2 separate regions of the Homo sapiens genome follow, and region 2 is linked to region 1. Evidence: fine-mapped expression QTL. Tissue or cell type: nasal epithelium. Region 1 holds a variant in brackets; the other region holds the start of a gene. All regions are shown on one strand. Distances are from middle to middle.

Region 1 (2,500 bases):
TCCTGCCTCAGCCCCCTGAGTAGCTGGGATTACAGGCATGAGCCACCATGCCTGGCTAGTGTTTTGTATTTTTAGTAGAGATAGGGTTTCACCATGTTGGTCAGGCTGGTCTCGAACTCCTGACCTTGTGATCCGGCCACCTCGGCCTCCCAAAGTGCTGGGATTACACGCGTGAACCACCGTGCGTGGTGCCTTTTTTTTTTTTTTTTTTTTTTTGAGATGGTGTCTCTGTCTCCCAGGCTGACGTGCAGTAGCATGATCTCTGCTCACTGCAACCTCCGCCTCCCGGGTTCAAGCAATTCTCCTGCCTCAGCCTCCCAAGTAGCTGAGATTACAGGCGCCTGCCACCATGCCCGGCTGATCTTTTTTTTTTTTTTTTGAGATGGAGTCTCGCTCTGTCACCCAGGCTGGAGTGCAGTGGCCTGATCTCGGCTCAGTGCAACCTCCGCCTCCAGGGTTCACGCGATTCTCCTGCCTCAGCCTCCCGAGTAGCTGGGACTACAGGCGCCCACCACCACGCCTGGCTAATTTTTTGTATTTTTAGTAGAGACGCCCTGTGTTGGCCAGGATGGTCTCGATCTCCTGACCTCGTGATCCACCCGCCTTGGCCTCACAAAGTGCTGGGATTACAGGCGTGAGCCACCATGCCCAGCCTGATTTTTGTATTTTTAGTAGTGATGGGTATTGCCATGTTGGCCAGGCTGGTCTCGACCTCCTGACCTCAGGTGATCCACCCACCTAGGCCTCCCAAAGTGCTGGGATGAGGCACTTTGGGAGGCATAAGCCACCATGCCCGGCCAGAAGATTCAGTATCAGTCAGAAAGATGTCAATTCTATTGATCAATTCTGCCATCATAGAGATAAGGGGTTAAATAAATTGTAGTACAATGAAACAATGGGGAGAAGAGTGTCTGTACAAAAACTCTGGAAAGATGTAATACACTTCTAATATGGTTTGTCTTCAAGGAAGATAACTAAGGAATGCCTGAAGGACAGGGATAAGAGAAAAAAAAGTCACTGCCCGTGTCCTCTTTTCTTACCAAACTATTCAATCCTAAAGACATTAGAAGGAGCCAAGCAAGGTGACTGTCTGCTGGGGTTTGGGGTGGGAGAACCTCTATGGCCCACAGCAGAGCAAAGAGGTCATGCACCGAGGCTGGCTGCCTGGCACAGGGAGTCAAAGCCCAGAGCTGTGTGTGTGTGTGCTGTATGTGTGTGTGTGTTATATATGTATGTTGTATATGTGTGTGTGTGAGTGTGTGTGTGTGGACACTGGTGAGCAGGAAGAAGGAGGGGTTGGGCAGTGTGTTGTGGCCTGATGAGGGGAGTTGGAGCCCAAGCAAAATGAACATGGCTTGAGTCATAGCAGGGTTTCCCAGATGGTGTATCAGAGCCCAACAACAGTGAAGTCATCCGTGTGGGTAGGGCAGGGGCAGCAGGGCCTG[A/T]TTGAGGGTGTCAGAGTCCAAGTAGGGTGAGAAGGGCATTGGAATCGCAGGGCTGCCTGGTGTGAGGAGTCAAAGTCCACACAGTATGGAGGGCATCGTGCCTGGGGGCAGCTTGGCATGGAGTTTAAGGGCCCAAAGTAAGGAAGGTGTGCACGTGAAGGGGTGGCCTGGTGTGAAGTATGTGATCCCTAGCAGAGGTAGGAGGGTATCACGTGCGAGTGAGTGACCTGGTATGGGCGGTTGGATCCCAAGGAGGCTGAGGAGGTGCTGATGCATGGATAGCTTGGCAGGGAGGTCAGAGCCTGAGGGGAGCTTCTACCTGGCAGCATGGCCCAGCATGAGCAGACAGAGCTTTGGGAAGGAAAGACTAACCACATGGGGAGGCAAGAGTAGGGGCCAGGAGCTGCAGGATGTCAGAGCTTGAGAGGAATGGAGGAGCATCTGCAGGAGAGGGGGTAGTGGTGGTGATAGAAGATGGTTACATACAGAAGGTTTGATCAAACAAGTAAATTAAAGATAAGGGAAGCCAGAGTTTCTCACTGTCAGAGAAGGGAGTTACAAACATGGGAAGAACCTTGTGGTGTTAGATTGGAATTGGAGGTATTGGTATGAACTCATGAATTTCAATGTGTATGAGACAAAAAAATAGGTATGTGTGTATATATCATATGTACATAGACACACATATAAATGAGTGTGTGTGCACATATATATATAACTCTGCCCACTAAGAGGGCCTGAAAGTAGTGACACTCCAATAGCAATGAACTTATCTAAATTCCAGATTGTGGATTTTATATATTATTCTCTACTAAAAGGAACCAGAAATGGTTTGTTCTGGGGCTGGGGTAGGGAAGATACAAGATGAGCTTGCAACATTTTCAGTTTTCTTTTTTTAAGAGGATTCTTGCTATGTTGTCCAGGCTGACTTCAAACTCCCAGGCTAAAGAGATCCTCTTACCTCAACCTCCCAACTAGCTGAGACAACAGGCATGTGCCACCATGCCCAGCCTGGAGCATCTTATACCATAAATCAAAGAAGTGCTCAAAGAATA
Region 2 (2,744 bases), 34 kb after region 1:
GGGTTCTTCACTCCAGTCTCACACTGTGGCCAAAAAATTCCTTCTAACATGCAAAATATGATCTTATCACTCCCCGGCTTACAGTCCCTCACCAGCCACCGAACTGTCTCTCGATAAAGTTCACATGCAGGGACCATGGCATTGTGATCTAGAGACACTGTCTGATGACCTCACCTCTTGAGCTCTAGCTACCCGATTGACACTACAGCCATAAATTAGTATCTCCTCTCTCTCTACATACTCTCCTAGCCTTTGCACCAAGGCTATTCCCTCTCCTCGGAATGTTGCTTTCTTTCTCCTACCAAACTTTTATTCGTCTTTAAAGCCTGACTCCTTTCAACTGTCACTTCTGGTGTGATGCTCTGCTTGATCCCAAAGCACTCCTTTGCACACAGACTGCCCTGTGTTGCATTCATTCATTCATTCTATAAGTGACGGAGCAACTACAATGAGCTGGAACGAGACCAGGGGCCATGAGCTGCGGGGCCAGGCGTGGACAGGCCTGAAAGGGTCCTCACGCTCACAGAGGGTCCAGGAAATGACAATACAGCCGGAGCGGGACTACAATGCGACAAGTGAAGGATGTGACAGCCTCGCATTGCAACTACCATACCAATAACAACCCACTTCCGAGTACAGCGCCCGGCACACAGCAGCATGACGTCATTTATTCCTCTGCCAAATATTAGGCGCCCACCACGTACCTGGCGCCGTGCTGAGCACCTGGGGCTCCGCGATGACTAAGACACTCGGCTCCGTCTACAGGGAGTTTACATAGGAGGCCCGGTGAAAATGTGACGCAGCCAGAGGATCTCAACCAGAGGGAAGAAAAAAGGAGAGATTTCACCCCCCAGCGGTCCTCTGGCAATGTCTGGACACATTTTTGGTTAGCTCGACTAGGACGAGAGGTGGTACTGTTATCTAACGGGCAGAACCAGTGACGCTGTTAAACATCCTGCCACAACGGGAGAGCCTCCCCCTCACCGCCACACCACAAACAAAACAAGGCATTATCCCGCCCAAAATGTCAACAGTGCCCAAGTGGCGCAGGGAGGGATGGAGGGAAGCCAACAGCCCCATCCCGCAGCGGAGTGCGCACCTCCCACAGAAGCAGCAGCAGCGCAGCGCACAGCCCGTTGGTAGGCTGCTCCCGGCCCCCATCCCGCCCCAAGTGCGCCCTCGGAGCCGGCGACCCGGCCACGGCCCCGAAACTCGGGGCCCGGGACGACCAGTACCTGCATCAGCATCCGCAAACAGCACCAACGCCACCGCAAAGAGCTTCCAGAAGCTTGTCCCGCAGCGAGTGCGCGCGCAAGCCTGCGGGAACCACTGCGCCTGCGCAGAGGCGCTGAACCGGACTCCCCGAACGCGCTCGTGCAGCTTTCCGAAAGTCCGCGCTTTCCATAGGCTCCCACCTGCCTGTTGCGCATGGTCACTGGGAAGCGGCTAGTGGGCTCGGCTGCAGAATTATTGCTGCGCCAGAGGCTCAGAGGCCTAGAATCGTATGAGGTTTGCAGATCCAGGAGGCTCCATCTGTTTAGTAACCTCAGACCTTCCCTACCCGCTCCCATCACTTCCATTCCCTGAAATCTAAGGTGGAAAAATCCACCGCAGAAGCATATTACCGATGCATTTAATGCAAGCCATAATTAATGCCACAACTTGAGTTAAACACATATTAATCTTATGACTTCCACACCTGCCCCCATGGTCCAGTCCACCCTCATGGCTCACCTGGATTATTGCAATAGCTTCTTGATTATACCTTACTTCTCTTGGCTATTCTCCACAGCCAGACGGACGTTTTAAAAACGTCAAATTATGACCCTCCTTTGCTTAAAACCCTGCAATGGTTTCCCATTTCACTCAGAGTTAAAACCCAAGTCTTTATAGTGGCCTACAAGGCCTGATGGAATCTAGCCCCTGTAACCTCCCGCACCTCTTCCCCACTTTCCTGCTCCAATCTTGATAGACCCCTTCCTCTTCTTGTAACCTGCCAGGTACTTCCGGCTGACCTGCTCCTTCCCTAAGTGGCCATACGGCCCGCTCTCTCATCCCTTCAGGTCTTCTCAATGAAGCTCTCCCACCATTCCACTTAAATAGGAATCCCACCTTACTCTTGTTTCCTCTTCTAACATGCCCTATAGGTTTGTTAATTTTTTTTTTTACTACTTGTCCGCCTTCTCCAGTAGAATACTAATTTCAGAAGAGTAAGTATTTTTATTTCATTTGTTCTAGGTTGTGTGTTTAGGTCCTGGAACAGGACTTGGCCCATGGCAGGCACTCAATAGATATTTGTTGAGCTTATGAATGAGTATTTGCATGGATTATTGGGGGCATTGCAAAAAGGGCCAAAGAACTCCAGAAAAATTGTTTGGAGGGTTCTAATAACTGGATGATCCCTGAAGGGGTGGAGTTAGGAGAGAAAGACTAGATTCATTCTAGACTGAAGGAGCAAGGTGATTCAAGGCCCTGAGACTTCAAAAGGGCAGAGCAAGCTCAACTAAATGAACCACTCCTCTCAAAAGGAGTGGGCTTATCACAGGCAGCAAGTCAAGCTGAAGAGACAGGGCTGAGAATGGCCGGGCGCGGTGGCTCATGCTTGTAATCCCAGCACTTTGGGAGGCTGAGGCGGGTGGATCACCTGAGGTCGGGAGTTTGAGACCAGCCTGACCCACGCGGAGAAACCCTGTCTCTACTAAAAATACAAAAAATTAGCCAGGTGTGGTGGCACATGCCTATAA

Evidence for each region. PIP is the estimated chance that this variant, and not a neighbour inherited with it, causes the effect.
Region 2: ZNF483 starts here. The variant in region 1 is fine-mapped to the expression of ZNF483 in nasal epithelium (TOPMed, PIP 0.99).

The regions. Positions count from the first base shown.
Region 1 is chr9:111,558,353-111,560,852 of GRCh38, reverse strand. It overlaps a transcript of ZNF483 not described here and a transcript of PTGR1 not described here. Among named protein-coding and RNA genes, the nearest start is that of ZNF483, 34 kb to the right of the region's middle. The variant A/T (reference allele first, on the strand shown) is at 1,446.
Region 2 is chr9:111,523,754-111,526,497 of GRCh38, reverse strand. ZNF483 (zinc finger protein 483) reads right to left here and starts at 1,319. Exons shown (of 6, transcript NM_133464.5): 1 at 1,236-1,319. RefSeq lists enhancers at 156-655, 767-966 and a silencer at 1,067-1,416.